5 separate regions of the Homo sapiens genome follow, and all the other regions are linked to region 2. The links come from fine-mapping of genetic effects on gene expression. A gene starts in region 2. Each other region holds a variant in brackets. All regions are shown on one strand. Distances are from middle to middle. Region 1 overlaps LOC105375784 (a long non-coding RNA gene). Region 2 holds the start of SLC45A4 (solute carrier family 45 member 4). Region 3 holds the start of LINC01300 (long intergenic non-protein coding RNA 1300). Region 4 overlaps SLC45A4 (solute carrier family 45 member 4). Region 5 overlaps SLC45A4 (solute carrier family 45 member 4).

Region 1 (5,100 bases), 250 kb before region 2:
CCCTGGACCTCAGACTGCACAAAAGGAGGCTTTGACATTGGTTGGGAGAAGGGAAGTCAGGAGGGAGGAAGGAGCTGGTGTGTATTTTTGGATGTAGCTCAGGAATCTGCTCCTCCCTCCAGCACCATGGCAACAGGCCTCTGAGAACTGCTGATCTGACGGTGGGGGCGGGCTGGGGGTGGAGGGCAGCTCTGTGGCCCTGGGCGAGTCGATTCCCCTCTCCGAGCCTCAGTTTGGGCATCTGTTTTGTGGGGATGGCCATACGGGTGGGGCGGTGGCTGGGAGGAGTCCCAAGGGGCCAGACCCATAGTGGTTAGCTCCTCGGAAACATTTTTAGGGGGAGGGAGGGGGCTGCAGGAGCATCCTGGGTGGTCCCGAGTCCAGAAGGTTTGGCAAGGCCATCAGGAGTCCTTGAGCCTAAGTGGCCCCTCAGAGTCGGCCTGCACCTCTCAGGACCGGGCCTGCCTCGGTGGCCCCACTGCACCCAGTTTCCAGCCAGGAGCCCCCGTGGGAGGCAGGATGGCAGCTGGGTCCCGCAGCCCCTGAAGCCGGAGGGCTGGGCGGCAGGTCCTCACAGCCGCCCCTGCACAAGCGCACCCCCAAAGCTCCAGGGCTTTTGCTGTTTCTAGAACTCCACCAGAGCAGGAAATGGGGGGATGAGCCCCATATTTGTTTCCCAGGGTTGTCATTAAGAAACTGCCACAAACCGGCTTAAAACAACAGAATTTATCTCTTGCAGCCCTGGACGCCGGAAATCTGAGATGAAGGTGCCGGCAGGGCCCTGCCCGCTCTGAAGTCTCTGGGGGAAGCTTCTTTGCCTCTTCCAGCTTCTGGTGGCTCCACGCACTGCTGGGCTCGTGGCTGCCTCCCTCTGGTCTCTGCCCCGGTCTGCACGTGGCCTTCCCTGCGTGTTTCTGTGTCCTTGCTGCTGCTTAGAAGCACAGCAGCCATTGGATTAGGACCCACTCTCATCCAGCATGGCCTCATCTTAACTCATTACGTCTACAAAATCTCCATTTCCAAATAAGGTCCCATTCTGGGGTCCTGAGTGGACACGGCGGGGACACCATCAACCCATCCTAAGGCCTTCTTGGGCAGCCTCAGGGGGAAGCCGGACCAGCCTTAAGTGAAAGTGGAGGGTTCCAAGGATCCTACAAAGGGGCCCTGACCCAGTCGGTGGGCAGCAGGGGACAGAGTGGACGTGGAACTTGTAGACAGACAGAACGATGCACAGGACTCACCCCCACCACCAGAGGTCTGTGTGCAGAGACGACAGAGGGCAGCGTCCCTCCCACTGCCCATCACCCATGGAGTGTGGAAAATCCCGGTCAAGACAGCAGCCCGGGCCGTGAAATCGAATCTGGGGGTCCCAAGCATCGGCGTTTGTGCAGCTCTCGGTGGTTCCAAAGTCAGCCAAGATCTCGGTTCTGGGCCGCCAGGGGCTCTGGAGTCAGACACCTCGTGTCTAAGTCTCCACCAGTTACTGACCGAGCGACCTCAGCAGTACGTTCACCGCTCCGGGTGTCCCTGTCCCCTGTGGATGGCATCATTGCCTCCCTTATGGAGATGAGAAGAATCAAACGGGAACGTTGGCTCCGTGCCTGTCACGAGGGAAGTGCTTGATAGACGGTGCCCTTCTGCGCCACGTAGAGAGAAAACCGAGGGAGCCTCATTTAAACTGCAGGCCTGGGAAGGCCTGTGGACTTTCAGGGAAGCTGAGAAGGGGCCCTGGCACCGGTCTGCATGCCAGCTGGGCAGGGCAGGGTGAGCCTGGTGCATATACCTGGGGCCACACAGCAGGGCCTCATGCTTCTTTTTTGGACCCACTTGACGGATGGGGAGACTGAGTTCAGAGAGGCCAAGTGGCTTGCCAGGGTCACGCAGCTGATACACAGCAAATGGATTTTAAACCCACCTGACCGCAATTCCAAGCATTGTTTTCTTGGGTCAAACCTTGGGAGCTCAAAGGGTGATCCTGACCTGTGATGGCTCCATTTTATGCAGAATATTTTGTTTTGTTTTTTAATTTGCCTGTTTACTCTAATGTTCCCAGTCGTTTTCCTCCCAGGGATCCTCACTCACAAGTGGACTCTGACGGCCTCGGGGGCTCAGATTTCACAATCGGCTAAGGCTAACATAAGGCCTTCCAGGTTACAAGGCTGAAAGTTATTTTCCATCATTCATTTGTTCACTTTACATAACATGCACCTATTGAGCACCTGCTGTATACTGGGAACCAAGTTAAACACCAGGTTTGCAGAGGTGGACAAGGCCCTGTTCCTGCCTCCAGGGTCTCCAACCCATCAGGAGACGCAGGCCCTTTGACAGACACTGGTGATAAAATGACAGTGGAGGTCTGTTCAAGATACAGGCAAGTTGGATGGGTGGGGTGGGAATGCCCACTGCCCTTGAGGGTGGGCAGGGGACAGAGGTGTCATTTACGGTGGGTGTCAAGGAGTTTGGTTCAGAACAAGAGCAAAGGCGTGTGCCCCAGGATGTGGGACAGCACGTGGGAAGACAAGGTGAGGCAGACTTTGGGGACTATCAGGGGCTCCAAGTGGTTGGTGTTGGGGGTGTCGAGAAGTGGAGGTGGAGGCCAGGACAGGACAGGGGCTGGGTGAGAGGCTAGTGCAGACAGGCAGAGGGAGGCATGGCAGGGCAGTGATGGGAGGAGGAGGGCC[G/A]CTGGGGTAAGGTGTAGTCTCAGTAGTTCCGTGGGTCTGGCTGCTTCCCAGGAGCTGACTAGACCCTCATGGCCAAGTTCATAGTCCTATGCAGTCTGACCTTAGCCTACCTGCCCAGCCCAATCCCTCTGCAGCTGCCACTCACACCTTCCAGCCGAGAACATCTTCCCAGCTAGGAAACCGTCACACCTGTACACCTTTGCACCTGCTTGTCCCCTCACTCCCTGGGGCATGCCCACCCGTGCATCAGTTGAAGCCCAAATGTGCCATCATCTGAGAAACATTCCCAGTGTCCCCACAAAAAGAGGCTGGTGCCTCCTCTCGGCCACTGCAGCCTGGACATCTGCCTATTCATTCATGCTGTCGCCACACTGCACTGCCATGGCTCATGTATGTGAGTTTCCTCTTCCCTGCTGTTGAGTGTAGGCTTCTTAATTATCTCTATATATCACTAGCCCCTAGGAACAAGGTTCGCCACACAGTAGCTGCTCAGGGCTTTTGATGAAAGAAGGAATGAGATTGCTGGCAAGGTAGGTGGGGGGATGGTGGGATGGATGGATGGATGACTGGATGGAGAGAGGATGGAAGGATGGGTGGTGATAATGGATAGTTGGATGGGGAAGTGGAGGGATCATGGATCTCTGGCTGGGTGGATAAGTGAATAGGTGGGTGGATAGGCAGGTAGGGAGGTGATGGATAGGCGAATAGGTAGATAGACAGATGGGGGAGGGGATCATTGTGGATAGATAGGTAGAGGAGGAATGGTGAATACATAGATAGGCAGACAAGTGGGTGGGTGGCTGGATAGGTGGGCAGGTGGGTGGTAGATGGATAAAGGAGTGAGTGGGCAAGTTGTACTTTTTGAACCAATTTACATCTGGGCAACACAGTAAGAATAAAGGATTATGACCAAGGACAAAAGTTGCTGGGTTAGATTTCATGGAGGAGTAGGTGGATGGATGATGGGTGGGAGAGGACAAACGATAGGCTGGTGGGCTCTGTCATGATTCCCCCAAATGGGGATGCAGCAAGTCCAGTTCCAGCTGGTTCCAAGGGACGGACTCAGGTAGATGGGACGGGTGCTGATCATAATCCCAAAGACACAATCCCGATGCCGTGATCCCAAACACTGAAACCCCAAAAGGTCAAAATCTCCAAAGTCTAAATCCCCCAAATCACAATTCCAAGAGGTTAAAATCTTGAATGTTGAAATCTTGAAAGCCAAATTCTGAGGAAAGGATCAGTGCGTTTTCGGTTGTACACGAGATAGTTGCACCATGTTCACTGCATCAAGTTAGGCGAGCTAGTGCCTTGTTATTGTCTTTATTTGGAAATAGCATGGTTTAAGGAGACGTGTATGGGTGCCGAGTTGACAATGGGTGGATTTGCGGACTTTATTTCAGGTGTTGACTTGGCTGGATTAAGGAATCTGGGCGTGGGCCAGGTACGGTGGCACATGCCTGTGATCCCAGCACTTTGAGAGGCTGAAGTGGGCAAATCACTGGAGTTTAGGAGTTTGAGACCAGCCTAGACAACATGGTGAAACCCCATCTCTAAAAAAAAAAAATTAAAAAAATTAAAAAATACAAAAATTAGCCTGGCATAATGGTGCACACCTGTGGTCCCAGCTACTTGGGAGGCTGAGAAGGAAGGATCATTTCAGCCCAGGAGGTCAAGGCTGAGGAGGAAGGATCATTTGAGCTCAGGAAGTCAAACGCTGCAGTGAGCTGGGATCGTGCTACTGTCTGGGCAACAGAGTGAGACCCTGTCTCAAAAGAAAAAAAAAAAAAGAAATTTGGGTGTTTCTGTGAAGGTGCTTCCAGAAGCGGTTGGTGAGTGAGTCTAGATGGATTAGGTGGGGAAGCTCTCCCCTCACTGTTGGTGGGCACCATGTAATTGGCCAGGGGCCTGAGAGAACAAAGTAAGAAGGCAAATTGTCTCTTTTTTTGTTTGTTTGTTTGAGACGGAGTCTCGCTCTTTTGCCCAGGCTGGAGTGCAGTGGCATGATCTTGGCTGTCTGTGACCTCCGCCTCCCAGGTTCAAGCGATTCTCCTGCCTCAGCCTCCTGAGTAGCTGGGATTACAGGTGCCCGCCACCATGCCCAGCTAATTTTTGCATTTTTTTTTTCAGTAGAAATGGGATTTTGCCCTGTTAACCAGACTGGTCTTGAACTCCTGACCTCAAGTGATCCTCCCGCCTCAACCTCCCAAAGTGCTGGGATTACAGGCCTGAACCACTGTGCCTGGCCCGAATTGGTCTCTTTCTGAGAGCTGGGACTTCTCCTCTGCTGCCTTGGACATTAGAAATTTGACTCCATGGAGCTGCATTACCATATGCTGACTGTGTGTGTAAGCATTGGACATGTATGGAAAAACATCGAAACTTCCTCAGTAAACGAACAGGTGCACTTTATGTATGA
Region 2 (5,100 bases):
GGAAAGTGGGGAGCTGCCGCTGCCGCAGCCCTCTCCTTCCCTGCAGATCTGCGGGGCGGGCTGGGGCGGGATCTCAGAGCTCACGGAAAGGAGGCAGAATCCGGTTTACAGGCTTGCTCCGCCCCTCCCCCACCCCCCTCCAATAAGCAAAGTTAGAGGGTGTTACAAGCTGCAAGACACACACCTTGGAGCTCACCCAGTCCAATCTCTGATCTGCTTTCACGATGCGACAAGGGCCAAAGCTGCAGCACGCATCTCGGCAGGGCAGCAGGCCACTCCCCCCACGAGGCCCGGGAGGTGGCCCTGGGCAGCCTCCCCACTCCCCGCCCTGTGAACACCTGGGCCAAAAAAACACACCTTTAAATACCCAGTGTGTATTTCAAACACATTTCAAACGATTTGCTTCTTTCCTTTACAGCCACTGCCACAAAAACAATTAGCCTGAACGGGTGTGAAATCCTTGATGTGTAAGACGACCTAGTTCCCCAGCCTCTCTCTAGAAACACATGAGTTCTTTACTGCGCCTGAGTCTCCTCCACCCGGAACCTGCAGGGCTGCCTCTTCTCATCAAGTGGCTTCTGCAAAACCTCTCCCAAGCATTTAAATAATCTCTGCTCGTTCTTTTAACAATAATTCAAACCTAGCAGAAAAGTGAGGACACTATACATTTCTTTTAAGGACAGTGTGTGTTACCTGCTCTGATCCCCATGTGTTACACTCCCTAACCTGTACACCAATACTCCAGCTTTTTGTTTTCTTATTTTTTCCTAAAGCCAGCACAAAATAACAGAAGGATAAGATTCCTACCACATTCTACCTGTCTGCCAATGACACAGGAAGGATGAGACCGTCTGGGGAATGGAAGCGCAGGGCGCTCTCAGTAATGCTGGGCAGATGCAGTGGCTTTTCCCCAGCAGAAATGGGCTTCGATTCAGAATCTACCAGCCCACAAGAATCATCTGACCCCACAACAATTAGTTCAATCACTCATCTGGTAAACCCTCCTCGCTCCGGGTCATAGACTGGAAAAGACAGCCCCCAAAACAGTAATAAAAACGACAAGCCCTGTTTTGCTGGAGTCAGCTGAGGTATCAGATGGGGGTCAGTGGCTAGGTCTGTGAACCTGAAGCCACACTCCATCAGTGACCCGCACTGGAGAGACACAAACACCTCAGGCTCCTTAGGAGGTCAAGCGGCCCTTCCCAGCCCTCCCTAGCCCCCGCCTTCTAGAATCATTCTGAATAGCTAACCAGGAGGCTGGGCCCCGTGTGGATCCGCCTCCGCTGGAAAAGCCGCTGCTGGAAGTGCTCCAATCCAGAGCAGGATACCTGGGGGAGGAACGGGTTAAGCGCAAAGGGGAAAGGGGCAGCGGGTGCTGAGACGCAGAAGGTGCGGGGACTTCTACAGAGCAGGGAATCTGGGCCCGGATGAACTGATGCCCTGGCCTCTTTCCTCCAGGGACAAGGTCGGTCTCAGGAAATCAAGGTATCTTCAAAGGGACACAAGGGAGCGCAGTGCCGATGAGACCGGGGCAGAGCCACAGTCTGGCGGTGCAGGCTGGGGGTCCGAGGCGGGGGACACTGGCTAGCAGTGCTGCCAGGGTCGTGTGTGCACTGGGCAGAGGGAAAGGAGGGGAAGAAGGGAAGGGGAAGAAGGGGAAGAAGGGAGTGTGTTCGGTTGGGAGGACCGGTCCAGACAGAGGGGAGAGGGGGCCACTTCGCGAGTGGTGTATCGCTGGTTGAATTCTCATAAGTTAGAGATAGCAGGCAGGGGTTAGAAGGACAAGACAGGGTCAGGACCAGGAGTTAGAGGCGCCAGGCTCCTCTCTGGGTAGAGAAACCGAGGAACTGGGGGCGGGGAGGACTGATGGGTGCGAAAGCGGGCCGGGTCCAAATGAAGGCGCGCGCCCCGGGGTGGGGGCCGGGGTGGGGGGAATGAGGGAGGCTGCAGGGCTGGGGACCAGGGCAGGTGCAATCCGGAAAGAGGAGGCGGGAAGGAATTGGGGGGCCCTGAGGAGCCAGCGCAAGCCGGGTGGGGGCACGTCCCCTCCCCCGGAGAAGGTGCGGGGCTGGGGCTGCGGCGCGGACCCGACCTGGAGGCCGAGGCTGTGCGGGAGGTGGGGGTGGGGAGGCTGCAGGTGCCCGGCGCCCAGGTGCGAGGTGCAGGGGGCGGCGGGGCAGGCGGCTGCGGGCGGCAGGCCACTCACCTGTCTCCTCCGGCCGGGGCCGCGGGGGCGGCGGGGCGGCCGGGCCGGGCCGGGCAGGGGCTACGGGGGCGCGGAGCCCCGGGCGCACCGGGGTCGGGAGGCGGCTGCGGGTCCGGGCGGGGGCTGCTCCCTCGGCCGGCCGGCCGGGCGGTCAGTCAGCGACGCGGGCGCGGAGAGAGCGCTGCGAGGCTGCGGCCGGCGCGCGGAGACAACGCCGCTTTATCGGGTCGGAAACAGCCGCTCCGCGCCGCTTCCGCTGACGCAGCGCCGGCCCCTGCGCCTCATGACTATGCAGCACCCGCCGCCGCGGGACGGGGATTCGGGGGGCGGGGTCTGCGCCGCGCGCGCTCATTGGCCTCCGCTGCCGCCCACCCCGCCCCCGAACGGCCGCCCCGCCCCCGCCGCGCCCCTGCCCCGCCCCCGCGCGCACCGTGGCTCCCGCCCCCGTCTCGCCATGGCCCCGCCCCCAGCCATAATCCAGCCCCGCCCCCGCCCTCCTCCCGCTACGCCCCCGGCCCCGGCCCCGGCCCCGGCCCCTCCGCACCGAGCGTCCGCCCTCTCTCCCCTAAAGCGCTGGCCCGCAATCCACCCCATCCCTCTCTGCAGCCGCAGGAGGTGGCCCCCGCCTGTCCCCACCTTCTCTCCCCGCTCCTCTCGCCACTCTGTCGCAGAGGGGTCCGGCTAGCCACGAGGCCCCGGCCCCCGGCAGCCCAGCCCCTTGGCAAGCACCCTCCCGCCCCCTCCGCCCCTGCCCGTGGCGCGGCGACATGGGCCCCATCCAGGTGCTGCAGCCCCTCCTCCGCTGCAGGAGAAAACTCTCCTGTTTTCCCCTCCCTGCCACCCTCCGAAGACCTCCTACCTGGTCCCGGACCACGCCCCCGTCCCCAACTCCCCCAACGCCCCGCGCTCTGCGGGTCCCCTCTCCAACCTGGAGAGCGGGGCAGGACGAAGACCCGACCCGGAGCTTCCTGGAGGCTGGGCCTCCCTCTCAGGCTTGGCCCTGGCCAGGGACACTGATCCGTCTCTCCCCACGTGTAGAAGGGCCACAATCCCTAGGGCAGGACTGCTGGGAAACCCCATCAAGACAAGGTCTGGGGAGGCGGCTTTAACAGACAGATGTGATGGGCTGAGGCCAACCCTGTTAACGTCGCAGCCCTGCACCCTTGCCAGGGTTTAAGTTGCTTTGGAGGAATTACTTCATTTCTCAGAACCTTGGCGTCCTCATCTGTAAAATAGAAATCGTAAGATCCATCTCACCTGTTGCTAAAGGAATTTAGAAGTGAAGTGCAGAGCAGAGCCTCCAAGAGCATCGGAAATGGGAAAATCTGACCATATCAAGTGTTGACAAGGAAATGGAGCAACTGGAACTGCCAGACACTGTTGGTGGACATGCAAAGTGGTACAACTTTCAAAATCTTTTTGAAAGGCCTTGATTACCCAGCAATTCTGCTCCTAGATACACACCTAACATTGTGTTTCTGTTGATAGCAGCAGTGTTTATAATTGCCCCAAACTGGAAACTACTGAAATGCTCATCAGCCGTTAAATGGATACATAAATTGTGATATATTCACACAGTGGAATGACAGCAATGACAGTGAATAATCAACTACACACAACAACATGGATGACTCTCACAAATGATGTTGAGGAAAAGAAGCCAGAGGATAAAAAGCCATATTTGTTTCCATGTGGATAAAGTGGTAGAAGGTGTATATGGGGGTAGCAGTCAGGATAGTGGTTACCCTTGGAGGGAGGGGTGCCAGAGCCAGGAAGCAGGGCACAGAGGACGTGTCTGGGGGCTGGCTGTGTTCTGTGTCTTGGTCTGAGTGCTGGTTACAGTGTGCTCAGTTTATGATGACTTTTCCAGCTGTGCAGTCAAGATGCATGTGCCTGTGGGGCACGGTGATTCACGCCTGTAATTCTAACACTTTGGAAGGCCAAAGCGGGTGGATTGCTTGAGCCCAGGAGTTTGAGACCAGCCTGAGCAACATGGTAAGACCCTATCTCTATTAAAAAAAAAAAAAGACGTGTGTGTTTTTCCATGTGTATGCAGTATCTCAACAGAGGGTTAGTAAGTACATCAATGGTCTGTAGACAGTCCAAAGCAGCATCAGACACATCATGAGTGCTCAAACTGTACATCTGCTTCCCTGGTGATTTTTCTTTCAATGGCCAAAGGATAGAGGCAGCGGCAATTCCAGGTGTGCTGTGAGCCAACTGTGTGAGCCTGGGCGCCTACTTAACCTCCCTGAGTCCTCTTCTATAAGTGAGCATTCTAATAGTACCTAGTTCACAAGTTGTCCTGAAGCTTAAACAAAATAGCAAAATGATGCTTTTTAAAATGACAATACAATCAAGAGGACAGAACAGGTAAAGACTTTGTTTATTCACAAATTGCTGGTATTGATTGAATTGTCTTCATTGTCATTCATGCAGTAACCAACTACTGAGTGTGTGCCTACTATGTGCCACACGCTTTGCTGGGTCCTAGTACTGGAGCTGGGAACATGATCCCATCTCTCTTCTTAAGGAGTGCATTGTGGGGTATGTACCAGCCATGGTAGCCATGGAGCCCAGTCTAGGATCAGCCTTGTAGTAGGTGCTCCATAAGTATTTCTTGGGGCTGGGCATGGTGGTGGCTCATGCCTGTAATCCCAGCACCTTGGGAGGCCGAGGTGGGTGGATTGCTTGAGCTCAAGAGTTCTAGACCAGCCTGGGTAACATGGCGAAACCCCATCTCTATTAAAAATACAAAAATTAGCTGATTGGGGCAGTGTGCATCTGTGGGCCCAGCTACTTGGGAGGCTGAGGCGGGAGAATCACTTGAACCTGGCAGGCAGAGGTTGCAGTAAGCTGAGATCGCACCACTGCGCTCCAGCCTGGGCAATAGA
Region 3 (5,100 bases), 30 kb after region 2:
TCAGGGCTCAGGAGGTAAGGGAGCTCAGGGTGCTCTCTGAAGTTAGGCCTCTTAGTGACCATCTTCAGCTGGATCTTGCTGGACCAGAAGCCAGAGCTTTGACCCCACAGGTGTGCCCTACCTGGGCCCTGGAGGGGCAGGTCAGTCTTTCTTGAGTGCCATCCTTTCACCCATGTTTTAAGCCTCCTGTTGACAAGGATCTGGACACAGGATTACATTCCAAGTCCTTGCTCAAAGCCTGAGCCGTCTCCACCCCATCAGCCACGTTGGTTGTGTCCCTGACCCGGACCCGGCCTCCCCTGCAGACCCTCGGGGCTCCCTCCCTAATCCCACCCTTCTGCACGCACCTGGGCCAGGACATGGGCAGTCACAGCTGACAGATTGTTTAGGGGATCAGGAAGCCGGTGGGTGTGCAGCAGATGCCTGTGTGGACATGCACACATGCACACTCATGCCCGCTTCCAGGCAGGAAGACCGGAGGCTGCACGTGGGCAGCGGCGGGTGGTGGTAGTCCTTGACCAGGGTGTGAGTCCAGTTTGTCTTCAACCTGGTGCTGGGAAGTGGGGTTGGGGAGGGTGTGAGGCATCCTGGGGTCCTTGGTGGGTTAGACTCCTGAAACCCAGCAGGTTTCTTGTGTCTCTGAGCCTCAGTTTCCCCTTCCCATAGCTTGGGAAGAAGAGACTGGCATCTCCCCAGGGTTCCTATGTGGGTGACACAGATCAACGTGTCAATGGTTTCCTCACTGTCCCTATCTGACCGCATGGCCCTGCCTGTCTCTCCTCCTCCCTGGAGCCCATGTTTGGGACTTCCACATTTGGTCCCTGAGCCTTCATGGAGTAGCTCCTCTGTGGGGAACCCTGGACCAGGTGCAGCAGGGAGTCGGGAGAGAGCAGATGGACTCCCTGCACTGATGGGGCTCACGGGGCCCTGGGAGAGAGTATCAACTTGGATGGTGACGATCCAGCAGGGCCACAGCTGAATGGAGGTGAGGACGAGGGCCCACGGGGCTTGGGGCACAGTGGCTGCCTCTGCTCAGAGACAGCTTCCCAGACCACACGGCGGCCCAGCTGTGTGTGGGAGGCATAGGAGCTCTCCTGAGGAAAGGCATGGGAAACAGAGGGAATAGCAAGTGCGAAGACCTGGTATGGAAGTAAGAAGTGACCGGAGTGTTGCTTGGGGGTGGTGAGCAGGAGGCAATGCATCAGGCAGGCGGAACCCTGCCCCTCCCAGGCTGACCCCAGCCAGACGGGGAAGGACCTGGGTCCCTGCTGTGGGTGGTGAGTCCCATACATGTCCCTGCCCACCCTGTCATCCTGCAGGGAGCAAACTGATCCCAGAGGGGGTGCCCAGCCCACGCCGTGCAGCACCGCAGGGGGAACCCAGCGTGATAGAGAGCAGTGTCTTAGACCTGGCTCCAGCGCCGAGGCTGCGGCCCAATCGAGGCCGGGTCCTTCCCCTCGAGACTTCAGCCTCGGCTCTCCTGGACTTCAGGGTGACATCACCAGGGTGTTGGGGGTCTTCTGTGATCCTCCTACGAATACTTCTTTTTTTTTCTTTTTAGAGACAGGATCTTGCTCTGTTGCCCAGGCTGGAGTGCGGTGGCATGATCACAGCTCACTGCTGCCTCAACATCCTGGGCTCCAGCAATCCTCCCGCCTCAGCCTGCTGAGTAGCTGGTACTACAGGGGTGTACCACTAGGCCTGGCTAATTTTTAAAAATTATTTATAGAGACAAAGTCTCCTATGTTGCCCAGGTTGGTCTTGAACTCCTAGGCTCAAGCAATCGTCCCGCCTCAGGCCCCTGAGTAGCTGGGTCTATGGGTGGGCACCACTATGCCTGGCTAATTTATTTACTTATTTTTGTAGAGACGGGGTCTCACTATGTTTCTCAGGCTAATCTTGAACTCCTGGGCTCAAGTGATCTGCCTGCCTCAGCCTCCCAAAGCACTGGGATTACATGTGTCAACCACCGTGCCCTACCCACTTCTGTTTTATTATTGTTATTATTATTTAAGATGGGATCTCGCTGTGTCACCCAGGCTGGAGTGCAGTGGCACGATCTCAGCTCACTGCAACCTCCACCTCCCAGGTTCAAGAGATTCTCCTGCCTCAGCCTCCTGAGTAGCTGGGACTACAGGTGTGCGCC[T/A]CCACGCCCAGCTAATTTTTTGTATTTTTAGTAGAGACAGGGTTTCACCATGTTGGCCAGGCTGGTTTTGAACTCCTGACCTTGAGTGATCCGCCCACCGTGGCCTCCCAAAGTGCTAGAATTACAGGCATGAGCCACCGTGCCTAGCCTGTTTTTTTTTTATTATTTTTAAAATTTTATTTATTTATTTATCGAGACAGGGTCTTGCTCTGTCGCCCAGGCTGGAGTGCAGTGGTGCAATCTCAGCCCACTGCAACCTCTGCCTCCTGGGTTCAAGCAATTCTCCAGCCTCAGCCTCCCAAATAGCTGGGATTACAGGTGCCGGCCACCACGCCCGGCTAATTTTTGTATTTTTAGTAGAGACAGGGTTTCACTATGTTGGCCAGGCTGGTCTTGAACTCCTGACCTCAAGTGATCTGCCCGCCTTGGCTTCCCAAAGTGCTGGGGTTACAGGTGTGAGCCACTCCTGGCCTCACTTCTATTTTTCAAACCGAGGGTGATGCTTAACCCAAGAGTAGGTGCTGTCAGGCCGAAACATCTGTTCTGGTCCTTGGCTGGCTTTCCCAAGGCCCTGAGTGTCCTAGGGCCTTGTGACTTCCTCTGTGAACTGGAAAACAGCCCCCAACTCCAGTCCCTGCCTGGCTAGGCTTGCCTGAGCAGAGCAGAGGTGAGAGGCAGGAAAGATCCAGCAGCCTCAGAGCTGTGAACGGTGCCAGCCCCGTGATTGACATGTCAGCCGCACTAATAGTATCGCTTCATCTCTCCAGACTCTCCCTTTCCCGGTTTGTCCACTGTTCTGTTTGGAAATAAGGTTGTGCCCTTAGTCATACCTTGATAAGAAGGGAGACGCCCCTGCCTGCCCTCTCTCTTCTGTTCCACCTCCTCTGCCGAACGTTCAGGAGCTCCTCATTCAAAAGACCGTCAGATGAAATGTTTGCTAGAGATAACACTGTGAAGCATTTAGAAACACCTTGCACCAGCCTACTTCTTAAATACTTGTTAAAAACGAGATCACACCCCAAATAGAGTTTCATAGAATATACCTTTTTTATTTTTCATTATTTTTTGAGATGGAGTCTCACTCTGTTGCCCAAGCTGGAGTGCAGTGGCGCAATCTCAGCTCACTGCAACCTCTGCCTCCAGATTTCAAGTGATTCTCCTGCCTCAGCCTCCCAAGTAGCTGGAATTACACGCATGTGCCACCACACCTGGCTAATTTTTGTATTTTTAGTAAAGACATGTTTTCACCATGTTGGTCAGGCTGGTCTTGAACTCCTGACCTCAAGTGATCTGCCCACCTTGGCCTCCCAAAGTGCTAGGATTACAAGCATGAGCCACCGTGCCTGGCCTCTTTTTTAAATCCAGTTTTTATTCAGCAGAATGTTCCGAAAGATCCAGAGGGTAACATGTGGGCAAAGTCCCTGAGCCCTGGCTGGGGTGGCCTGGGTGGGGTTGCCTTCCTCCGACACCCAACTCATGTGGGCCCTGGGCGCCCAGCACCGGGTTCCTTCCCCCCAAACCCATCTCATCTGGACTCTGGGCACCCAGCGCCGGGTTCCTTCCCCCAGGCCTTGAGCCTGGCTTTGCAGCTCCTGCTGCCCCAGGGCAGGTGGTGGTGGCCGCCCAGCCCTCACCCAGCCCCGAGTCCTGTGTGGAAGGCGATTCCTCCCACTTTACCGGGGAGGACACAGAGGCTGAGCGTGGTCACGGCCGGAGCCCCAGCGCAGCATCTGAGCTGCAGGCTGGCCGCCCCCCACCCCGCTGCACCCCCATATTCCACTCACAGACCTTCTTCCTGCTGAACACAGCTGGGCCCTGACGCCTCTGTGCCTTGGCCACAAGGCACCTTCTGCTCACTCAGCTGTCCCTCCAGTCCCCGTAGGGCTGCAGACCCAGGCCCACCCAGTCACAGGCCTGGCAGCGAGGGGGAACAAAAGGGTCAAGGGGCCGCCCAGGGCTGGGAAGGGCCTTGCTCCACCTCGCTCTCCTCCATTCCCCGTGTGGGCCTCCGTCTCCCATTCTGTGAAATGACCCGTTTGGGCCACAGGGTCCCCAAGTCCTCTTGGCTTGGGGCCGTCTGTTCCAAGAGGAGGGGCCATATTGGTCCTTGAGGCCCCTGCGGCCCAGTAAGTCTGCAGTGAGGCCTCCCTGGACGTATATATCAACAAAAAGTCAAACTCCGTAAAGTGTTTGAGACATTTATTCTGAGCCAAAGATGAATGGCCGGGGGCCCATGACAGCCCCAGGAGACCCTCAGACCATGTGTTCAAGGTGGTCGGGCCACAGCTAGGTTTCATACATTTTAGGGGGACACAAGGCATCAATCAATACACATAAGCTGTACATTGGTTACGCCTAGAAAGGCGGAACCACCGGAAGCGGGGATGCTTCCAGGTCATAGGTGGATTCGAAGATTTTCTGATTGGCCGTTGGTTGAAAGAGTTATTGTCGGTAGATAGGAATGTCTGGGTTAAGATAATGGGTTGTGCAGACCGAGGTTTCATCATGCAGATGAAGCCTCCAGGCAGCAGACTGCAGAGAGAATGGATGGGAGATGTTTATTATCAGACTGAAAGACTGTTCTGCCAGTCATTCCAAAAGGGAGGGGGGATAACAAGGTATGTCCGTCTCCCGCTTCCCACCGTGGCCTGAACTCGCTTTTCAGGTTCACTTTGGAATGTCCTTAGCCAAGACGAGGGTCCGTTCGTTTGGCTGGGGGTCTTAGGATTGATTTTCTGGTTTCCATATGCAATGGGAGTGGGGGAGAGATGGGGTGGGGGCAGCCTGAGGCTCAGCCCTGGCCAAGGAAGCCCCCTCCAGGCATTGGCCAGGTTCTGACTCCTACAGTGTTACAGCCGGCAGGGAACTTGGACCCACAAGCTCCTCCCCTCCCCAAGCCTCAGTTTCCTTGTTTGTAAGATGATGCCTGGGGTCCTTGCTTCCTTGTAGGGCTC
Region 4 (5,100 bases), 82 kb before region 2:
GATTTATACGTTTCACCAAGTTTAGAAAACATCCCGTTCATCCCGTTACGTCTTACTTCAAAGCTGTGAGTTTTTTGGTTTTGTTTTGTTTTTGGAGACAGGGTCTTGCTGTCACCCAGGCTGGAATGCCGTGGCACAATCTCAGCTCACTGCAACCTCCGGCCTCCTGGATTCAAGCAATTCTTGTGCCTCAGCCTCTCGAGTAGCTGGGTACAGGTGTGCACCACCACACCCGGCGGCTAATTTTTGTATTTTTTGTAGAGACAGGGTTTTGCCATGCTGGCCAGGCTGGTCTCAAACTTCTGAGCTCAAGCAATCTGCCCACCTCGGCCTCCCGAAGTGCTGTGATGACAGGCGTGAGCCACTGCACCTGCCCCTGCAAAGGTTTTACATCCCATTCTCTATTTCCTTTCTTCTGGGGTTCCCATGACAGACATCAGACCTTTGAGATCATCCCTCTGTTTCCTGGAGCATTCTTCATTTCTTTTTTCAGGCTTTAATCTCTATATGATCATTTCTGTTGACATATCATGAAGTCCACTGACTCTTCTGTCCCCTCCAATCTGCTGTTAACCCCATCTGGTTCATTTTCTATTTTGATACTGTAGTTTTCAGACCTAGAATTTCCACTTGGCTCTATTTCTGTAGCTTCCATTTCTCTGCTGGGACTCTGTGCTCTCCATTCTGAGCATGTTTTCTGTCCTTGGGTGTAGTTACGCACACCCATCTGACCAGTGCGACACGCGACATCATCGTGGGTCAGCCTCCACTGCTGCCGTCCTCCAGCAACGGTCGCCTTTTCTTTTTTAAAAAAAACATGTCTAATAACATTGAGTTGTATCCTAGACACTGTGAATGATGTGTCATAGACTACACTGCTATATTCCTCTGAGAGTGTTCATGGTTTTATTTAACACGAGGGTTTGAAATTCCCGCCCCATCTCCTAACTCCACCCGAACTCTGCCTGTGGGTTCTTCAAGAAAGGCAGAGTGGAGTTAACTATCCAAGTTTCAGCCACCCTGTGTTGCGTCAACGAAGGCCAACAGTCGGGTTAAAAGCGGTGCCAAGAGAGAAACCCAGGCATTCCCTCTTCCAGCCATCACCTTCCTACTTGGTTTCTGCCCCAAGCGCTGGCTGGGTGTCAGGAGGGTGGGGAGGACCTGCAGGTGCGACCCAGCCCACCTAATCTAGAGGAGGCGCTGCGTGCACAGGCCTGTCCCGCCTTTGTGCTGCCAACCCTGGGAGCCGGGAAGACGCTGGGTCCGGAGCAGCCCTGGACCAGGCAGCCGTCCCCAGCCCAGAAGGGAGGCTTCTCACCCCGGGAGACAAGAAGGCACAGGGCACTGGGGGGAACCGCTAGGCCCGGGCCAGGCCCTCGGCTCCCAGTCCTCCTGTGGAGGCTGCTTCTCCACCCTTGTCCCACAGGCCCCTCCAGAGCCTGGTGGGACCCGGCCCCAGGCCTCCCTGGGCACCTCCACCCGCCAGCCTCCTCCCCTTTGCCCTCAGCTCTGACTCCTATAGTCCCCACAGCTGCCCCAGCCTCCGTGCGGCCCCGGCCCTGGTCTCTCCTGTGTTGCCAGCCCCCAGCCCTAGGTCAGGCCTCCCCACGCCTCTCTCTGACTCCCACTAACTCACCCCTACATCTGGCCGGCCTGCCTTGGGACCCAGGTCAGCCCCTCAAACCACACAGCTGCCATGGACTGTGCCTGGAAGCCTTGGACCGTTCCTCATGGCCTGACATCGTGATTTTAACTTTACACCCTGCGGTGTCAGGGCCCGCGTTCCAATCCTCAACAAGACACTGTGGGGCTTCCTTTCTCCATCTTTCCCCTCTGCTTGGACAACCCCAAGTCTACACGTCGGGACTGGCACTTGGCACATTCAAAGGGGATCAGTGGAGACACAGAGCCCACCGTGGCACCACCGCCCGTGCCTCCCACCCACGATGCTCAGTGCGGCGAGCAGCACACGGGCCTCCTGCTGGGGTGCTCTCAATGCTGGTGCGCAAGGTGCCCTGCCCCACGTGCTTTCCCTGGAAGGGGCGGCACGCCTTGGCACCAAGCATCTACACCCAACGACAGCTGTCGCTGCTGAACCTCTCGGTGGGCCTGGCGCCACCCCAGGTGCTGGCCTGTCCCCTCTGGAGGAATCCAGAATCTGGCCAGAGCAGGAGACCCACGACTGGGGTACACAAGGCAGGAGGGTTGCCAGGGTCGCAGGCGGCTTCCCTCGGGAGTGGTCACGGGGTGAAGGCCGCAGACACCATGAGCAGGTCAGGCCGAGGATGGAGAGACAGGCCGGGGGGCCGGGACAGGGCCAGCAGTGTCTGTCTCATTCTTCCCTCCCCAGTCAGCCTAAAAGTGAATTCCAGGCTGCAAGGAAAGCTCAAGCCCAATAGGAAGTCAGCGACTCCATCTCAGTCCCCAGCACCTGAGGCAGCACGGCCACGGGACGCCTGCCGGGTGCCCACAGAGCCAGGCTGCAGGAGTGAGTGGTCCCGAGTATCAGGGGACAGCTTCCTTTGTTTTAAGCACCTTGGCAAGAAAAATAAACACTTTTCATCGTATCTTCAAAACGGCCCCGGGAGGGCACAGCTGCCGCCTCCCTGCCTCGCAGGTCCTGCTCTGACGTCCCCGGCGGTGAGAACTCGGTCTCCCCCGTTCGTAGCAGGGGGCTGCCACTGGGACGGCTCTGACGGGGCATTTCCCAGCCCGGCTCCAAACACACACAACGCTGGGCCCAGTAAATAAGTTTTGTTTTTTCCCAGGGAAAAGTTGAACAACAATGGTGAGACCAGGAAGGCTCTCCGTTCACAGGAAATACTGTGTCACCGCTCGGCCGCAGGCTGTGTGAGGTCACGGGCGACGCTCGGGTCACGTGTGGCGGCTCCTGTTCACAGTGCCGTGTGTGATAAACTGGGAC[T/C]TTCTGGTGAGGGGAGACTGGCGGGGGGTGGGGAGGGCAAGGAGTGGGAAAGTCGCCTATAAATGTTTAACAAAAGATCCGCAATGGGAACAGGAACTTGCATTCTTTCTTTCAATGGACAAAGCTTCCACATCAAGATACGCTTGTGTGCTGGGACCAAATGCCACAGTGCGGCGAAACTCGTGAGCACAAGTCCTGCGTGGGAAAGGCTTAGCATCCTTGAGTGACCTCTGATGAATTTAAGTCAAGGAACACTGTCAGGAGCCACTTCTGAAGGGCCCCAGACAGGAAAGACACTGGGCCGGGGGAGCCGGGCCCCCAGGGCTCGGGCCACCTGCTTGCAAGAGGGGAAGGGCCACTGGCACTGGGCCCCCGGCACTGAGGCTCTGTGCTGGCGAGGGCCCCACAGCTGCAAGGAATGTTCCAGAACCACTACAGCCACAGGAAGATAGGGAGGGGGTGAAAAGAGGGGCAAGCTCAGGTGCTTTTCCTGAGCCTACTACAAACCGGCCCGTCATTTAGGGTGGAGGGGACAGCAGCACCTTGAGTGTTCTCACATGTGCCGCCTTCCCACTCCAACACCCACGGCCCACCCAGCCCCTCCCGGAGTGCCAGCCATGGCTCTCTGAACCCTGTGGGAGAATCTGGCATTGAAGGGCCGGGGACAATAAGTTCCCGGGCTTTGGCCTTTTGTAGGAGAGGAGGAATTGAAACTTGAAACCCAGGACCCAGCGCCTCATTTCTAGAGGGTGAGGCAGAGCCCTGAGGGGAGAGCTGTGTGGAGTGGAGCTGTTGGGTGCCCGAGAGGCTGTGGCTCACCGCAAGCTTTAGATGGAGTGATCTGGGTGGAGGCAGCAGTTTTGAAATTGAGCATTCTAACCTTTCTGAAGACTCCATTGATTTGACCTCAGTGGACTCACAAGGGTCTTTGGACGGGACAGCCCTGAGGCTGGGCTTGCTTTCCCCATAGATGATGCTGTCCCTGCCGCCCTGTGCCAGGCACCTCCCAGCAACTCCCAGGGGGCCACTGTTTCTCCTCTTCAACAAGGAGGGGCGCCTCAACAGCCTGGCTAGAGGCCCCTGGCCAGACCCAAGCAGGACGCTGGCGCTCCAGAAAGCCAGCGGGAACATTCCGCAGCTGCTGTCCTGTCTCAGGGCCGACCCTGTGTCCAGCTTGTGGGCACCTGTCTTCACTGGCAGGCACCTGTCTTCACTGGCCAGCTCCTCGGGCAGGCACTCCCCGCAGCTGGAGCATGGGCTCCTCTCTGCCCTATCAGCACAGCCACCCATTCTCGGCTCTTTAAAACAGATGTTGCAACAAGCAAACATCTTTGTGATGACACAGTGATGTTATCGTAGCTGTATAAACAACCGTATGGCCTTTGGCCTGAGATTCCGGAAGCTTCCTGAAGAGCACAAAATGCAGGTCAGGCCATGTCCTGCAGCCCTGGCTAAGCTCAGGGGTCAATCAGTTCCAGAAGCCAACAGCTACCCCAGGCCTTGGAAGAGAGAAAGGAAAGTTCTAATTCAATACATCCCAAACCCATCTCTGGATGTGCCGCTTCATATCTAGACCTCCTCTGGGGTCCCCTAACTCAGAGAAAAGGCTCTGTCACCCACCACTCATGCTGTCAGGACCCCGGGCACCAACACCACCCGCCCCACAGCCCACCTGGCGCCAGGTGCCGCTGCCTCCTCGGCTGCACATCCCCGCCGTACACTTGTCTCCCCATCGGCTCCTCCCGCCCATGGGACCTTCGAAGACACTGCTGCCTCTGCCTGAAGTACTTTACCTTCCCCCCTTACCTGACATTCAATAACTGCTTAGTGCCCTTAAAAGAGCTGCACTCTCAGGAGCAGAGTTTTGTGAGCATAGCAGGCTTCCAACTGACCCCTGGTTCCTCCCTCATCCTCCGTAACCCACCCGCCACCTGCAGTCAGAGTGACCACCTAAAACCCACTGCTTGCACCTGCCGTGGCGTCCAGGGCCCTCAAAGTCCTGCCTCATGCCTGCAGCCCACAACACCCTACCCTACCCACTGGCTGGACAGCCCATGCCAGACCGCTTCCCTCTCCACACCAGACTCCAACCGCCCACCCCACCCTACCTCCTCTTCTAGAAAACACCAGGCTCACATCCCGCTCAGAACCTCAGCCACGGCCACTGGGGAGGGTCC
Region 5 (5,100 bases), 65 kb before region 2:
AAGTAAAATGAGAAACCGGCTGCCCGACACTGTGATTGGATCCTAGCTCTGAGACACCACACGCATCACCTGCCGTGCTGCAGTGGAGACGCATGTGGATGTGCAGAGTGGGGCCTGCAGGACGCTTCCCAGACAAAGCCCTCCTCTCCCCTCCAGACCGTCCTGTGAGGGCAGCTGGGGGCAGCCGCCCGGATCCATGGGAGGGGGAGTATCTTCCTGGGTCTTGACTAACATCGGGGCCACTTCACACCCTCCCGCTCTCCCCGCTTTGGGGCGCTGTGGGCCTATGGGCACCGGTTTGTGGGTGTGCTCTCATCTCCTTTATGGGACTCAGCCTGGGGCTAAGAATGTACATATTTTTAAAAGTCTCCTCCAGAAGTGCATCGTTCAATAAATGGTGTGGAAATGTAGTGCATAACACACACAGCGTCACAAACGGCCAGGCTGCGGTGAGCAGTGGCTCTGCGGGCAGGCGGAGCAGCAGCACAGCCAAGAAGGGCGACAGACGGCTCACCGGCAACGTGGTGGACACAGAACCAGAGGCTTTATCTGCACTGTTGTTCTCCAAGAGTTGCTCTGGGGACAGTGGCGAGGTCCAAGGACGCTTGCCTATGGTGCGACTGTGTAGAAGCTGGGGATGTTGCTGCCTTCGGGGAAGGGAGATGGGAGGCTGCGGGACAGGAGTGGACGGAAACCTCGCTGTCTGCCCTATGGTAACTTCTCAACTCTGAACTTGGTGAAGGCGCTGTCCATTTAAGAAAGTAGAATTCATATTTTAAAAACAGTGCCTTTGCATCCATTACAATACAGTCAAAGAAAAAAAAAAGAAAAACAGCTTCCCTTTTGAGTCAGGTCTGGGAACCGCTGGTGGGCTGGCTCTGTGGGGCAGGACCTGCTCAGGGGATGGTGCTGACAGGGTCCTCTGGGGACAGGTGGGCTGTCTCTCCCTTCACAGCCAGCCAGAGGTCTGGGCACCCCCACTGCCTCCAAGCCTTTCCTCCCAGGCCTGGGAGCCCAGCAATCCCCCCAGCACTAGGAGGGACCACTGCTTCTGCTCTAGAGCGCCTTCAGAAAAGGACGTGGCTGTGTGGAATCAAGGATTCAGGTCCCATCCTGGCCAGGCAGAAGTGGGGGCAGGGCCATTCCTGCCGGGACACAGATGGCAGCTGTGAAGGCATGGTGCATACAGGGACAAGACAAGGGAGTGTATGGTGGCCTTCGCACGGACAGCGGGACAGCCCGAATCTCCAGGTCAGACAGAAAAGAGCAGGCAGCCCTCCTCATGGCTGGGAGCCTATCCTCAAGCTCCCTGCACAGATGAGATGAAAAGAGAGGCGCATCCCGCCAAGTGTGGCCATCATTATACGCACATTTAGCCGAGATCACAGGGAACAACTGGCAACTGAAAATAAAAACCCACAGACTCAAACTTCACCGTGAAAGAAAAACAAAATCCTCCACAGCTAAGAGTGATGACCAGGACGATGATCAAAAGGCCCAGAGTCTTCTAAATAATCCAGCTCATGTGACAGATAGAATTTAAGAAATAAAATAAGTACTGGAATCACCGTGATTTTTAAATTTCTTAAACCTAGGTATCTAATAGGCCAGGCCCAAGTGACTTCCACAGCGGGAATGAACGTGGCTCCTGGCTGTGACAATTCTACATTGTTTTCCCACAGAGGATGTTTAGACCAGTGGGGGAAGTGCTGTGATTAGAAACGCGGGCTCCAGTATCAGAAAGAACACCATACTCCCCCATTATCAAGAACGGGCGAGACAGTGCTGGGAAAAGAGCCTGAGGGTCTCATGAGAATACAAAGTTGCTCAGTTCGTAGCTTGCTGCAGCTCCCGTGGTACATCGGTGAGTGCCCCAGATAACAAGCCCAACACTGACCCTGGACAAGTCGCTGAGTCAAACTCCTCCATTAGGCAGCTTGCCACTCCCTGCTCTCACTCACAGGCTGCTGGGAAGAGAGCCGGCAGATACTGTCTTCCACGAGCACCTCAATGCACAGGCCCGAGACTGGAGGCCACACGTTGGGGGAGCCCATCTACCACCATCCTGGGTTTATACAAACACCGCGGGAAGCTGAATGTGGACCTGAATGTGTATCCCAGGCCACGCAATGTGGTAGGAGGCTATAGAATCTCTCACAAGAGGCGACGGGATTTTCAAACCTAAGCCAGCCCGTGTGCAGCGGGGAGCCGGCAGGGCGAGGACCCATCTACCGGGTGGTGACAGAGAGCTCCACCTCCAAGACTTTGCTGGGAGCCACAGAAAAACCTGCTAGAGTTGGGAGTATTACTCCTGCTCCGGGGTCCCTCCACACACTGTCAGTCCCCCTCTGAGCACCACCTTGCAGCAACCTGTTTCCATGACTGTCCTCCCCACCGGGCCACCAGAAAGTCAGGGGGACCCCATGTCTGCCTTCTGTGTCCCAAGACACTGCATGTGGCTCAGCAGGTCCTCCAATGTCGGAGGGAGGGCAAGGTTTGAGCAAGCCTACACAGCGGTGTGGGGATGTGACCGAGAGCAGCTCCGCCAGGTGCCCCCCGCCGCAGCAAGCACGAAGCGCAGTGGCATCTGTGTCAATGGCGCTCTCATTCCCACAAACTAGAAAGGCTTTTTAAGAACAGGAAAAGCCGTTCCTTCCGCTGTCAGAAAAACAAAACCACTTGCCATCAACCATACTAAACCTGAAATGACATTTGCCAAAAACCTTTCAAGATTTAAATACAGGCCGGGTGCAGTGGCTCACACCTATCATCTCAGCACTTTGGGAGGCTGAGGCAGGAGGATGGCTTGAGCCTAGGAGGTCAAGGCTGCAGTGAGCCGTAATCGCACCACTGTGCTCCAGCCTGGGCGACAGAGACCCTGTCTCAAAAATAAATTAAAATACAGTTGACCCTTGAACAACGTGGGTTTGAACTGTACCGTCCA[T/C]TTACACAGATTTTCTTCCGCTTCTGCCACCCGAGACAGCAAGACCCCCGCTCCTGATCCTCCTCAGCCTACTCAACATGAAGATGAGGATGAAGGCCTTTATGACGGTCCACTTCCACATAATGAATAGGAAATACATTTCTCTTCTTAATAATTTTCTTAGCTATGTTTTCTTCAGGTTACTTTACTATAAACATATAATACATATAATATAGAAGGTATGTGTCAACTGACTGCTTATATTATTGGTAAGGCTTCCAGTCAGGAAGCTGTTGGTAGTCAGGTTTTAGGGGGAGTCAAAAGCTACACATGGATTTTTGACTGTATGGGGAGTTGGCACCCCTAACCTGAGCTGCTCAAGGGTCAGCTGTATACCCAACTGCCCTCCCAATCAACTCGGCTACTTGGGAGACTGCGCCCCTATTCTTCATGGTGCGCTCCGCCTGTCCTGAGGTCACAGGAGGTTCTGTCTCGGGCACAGTGCTGACTGGTAACACCTGGGTTTGAAAGGCCTCTTCCCTGCCCTGCCTGCAGGAGGTTCCCCTGTGCCTCCTCCAAGCGAGCAGCTCCAGATGGAGTCCAGCCCATGCCTGGGCCGGAGGCAGAGTAGCCTCCAGCCTCCTCCGGAATGTAATACATCAGCTTCTGACCTGGGACAGGAGCATGTGGCCATATGAGGCATCCAAGGCAGGTCAATTTCTCCTTCATCAGCAAGTCACTCGTTCAGTCCTGCAAGTCTTTGTTCCACACTGGGCATGGGAACAAAGGTGAGTTGGACCTTGTCCTTAGGGGATGCACAGTCTAGGAGGGAGAGGGCAACCTTCAGGAACAACGGGTGGAAAGACAGGGCTGCAGGGGGTCCTGGAGCACATGTGAACACTGAAGAGATGCACACACTGTGGAGTGCGTTGAGTGGGAGCATGCAGAGGGGCCAGGCCAGGCGGATGTGAGCAGTAAACAGCTGCAGAGACAAGTCTGGCCTGGAGATGGGCTGTATTTCATCAAATCCAAGATGCCACCATTTTCGAAAGCACTGCTCTCTCAAACATACTGAATGTGACAGACCCTGGAGTTGTCCAGTGTGACACCGACGGGGCTCAGGACGGGACACACACAGGACAAGAGTGAGGGAGGGCAGAGCCGGAAACCAGGCCCACTCAGCCCTGTGCGATGGGAGACAGGGCCAGCACCAGGGCCCAGAAAACCTCTGAGTTTGGAAATGAGGACATCCCTGCGCATTCAGCAAGAAGACGTGGGTGGGGGGGGGGGGCGGTGTGGAGGTGGAGGCTGGGCTAGAGTGGGGTGCAATGAATGAGGTGCAAACTGCCCCACTGAGTGACTTTTCCACAGTAAGTGTGAGGCAGGCCCTCGACAAGTTACCACCAAGGCTGCTGACTACGAACCCAAGTGGAGAAAAAGATAATGACAGTAATAACAGCTAACAATTACAGGCTCTGTTCTAAGCACATCATATGTGTCAACTCTGCACACGTTTCCAGAAGAAAGGAGATGCTGGTATCTGCTGAGATAAGTAAGGCTACACACTTGGAACATGGTCGATTTTTGGATTCTCCAAGAGGAGCCAACATTGGGTTGCTGGCTGCTGCTACCTCCACCACCACCGTTTCGAGGAGGGACAGGAAATCTCTGTCACTTGAGCAAATAATGGAAATGAAAGAGAAACCAGAAACAGGACTTGAATCATCATCATAAAGGAAAGTGTTAATTCATCACTCAACGAACAATGGGCCTTCCGCTCCATCACGTCTTCTGTCCAGGGTTCCCAGAGCCCCCTTTACTGCTTGCCTCCCCCAGGGCTGACCCGGGGGGCAGCCAGCAGAATCCCAGAGCATCAGGGACTCCCAGGAGACCCCAAAATCTGGTCTCAGCATCATAAGCACACCAAAGTCACCTGATGGCAGACAACTCCCAACCTGCCGCTCAGAGGAGGCTGGACTCTTAGAGCTAGATGGGACTCACAGACCCTCAGCGTGTCCCAACCCCAGACCAGCCTTAGGCCCAGGAGTCAAGGGCAGGGGGAAGGGAGGGGCCTCCCAGGGGCAGCAGCACTGTCTGCCAGCAGCATCGCAGGCAGTGTCACCACTAACTTCTGAAGAAGATAGCACACTGCCTGGGCTAAGGATGGTGCAGGCTGA

Evidence for each region. PIP is the estimated chance that this variant, and not a neighbour inherited with it, causes the effect.
Region 1: its variant is fine-mapped to the expression of SLC45A4 in sigmoid colon (GTEx, PIP 0.98).
Region 3: its variant is fine-mapped to the expression of SLC45A4 in monocytes (Quach 2016, PIP 0.95).
Region 4: its variant is fine-mapped to the expression of SLC45A4 in whole blood (TOPMed, PIP above 0.99). The same link has a PIP of 0.9 or more in monocytes after R848.
Region 5: its variant is fine-mapped to the expression of SLC45A4 in whole blood (TOPMed, PIP above 0.99).

Annotation. Positions count from the first base shown.
Region 1 is chr8:141,059,239-141,064,338 of GRCh38, forward strand. It overlaps LOC105375784 (a long non-coding RNA gene), which reads left to right. Exons shown (of 3, transcript XR_002956733.2): 3 at 740-3,255. Among named protein-coding and RNA genes, the nearest start is that of PTK2, 61 kb to the left of the region's middle. RefSeq lists an enhancer at 462-1,159. The variant G/A (reference allele first, on the strand shown) is at 2,682.
Region 2 is chr8:141,305,890-141,310,989 of GRCh38, forward strand. SLC45A4 (solute carrier family 45 member 4) reads right to left here and starts at 2,399. Exons shown (of 9, transcript NM_001286646.2): 1 at 2,207-2,399. RefSeq lists silencers at 2,275-2,374, 2,395-2,634.
Region 3 is chr8:141,335,909-141,341,008 of GRCh38, forward strand. LINC01300 (long intergenic non-protein coding RNA 1300) reads left to right here and starts at 4,641. Exons shown (of 4, transcript NR_024441.1): 1 at 4,641-4,764. RefSeq lists an enhancer at 1-103 and a silencer at 2,822-3,116. The variant T/A (reference allele first, on the strand shown) is at 2,147.
Region 4 is chr8:141,224,376-141,229,475 of GRCh38, forward strand. All of the region lies in intron 2 of SLC45A4 (solute carrier family 45 member 4), which reads right to left. Among named protein-coding and RNA genes, the nearest start is that of SLC45A4-AS1, 28 kb to the right of the region's middle. RefSeq lists an enhancer at 3,429-4,282. The variant T/C (reference allele first, on the strand shown) is at 2,924.
Region 5 is chr8:141,240,756-141,245,855 of GRCh38, forward strand. All of the region lies in intron 2 of SLC45A4 (solute carrier family 45 member 4), which reads right to left. Among named protein-coding and RNA genes, the nearest start is that of SLC45A4-AS1, 11 kb to the right of the region's middle. RefSeq lists enhancers at 1-610, 4,526-4,695. The variant T/C (reference allele first, on the strand shown) is at 2,945.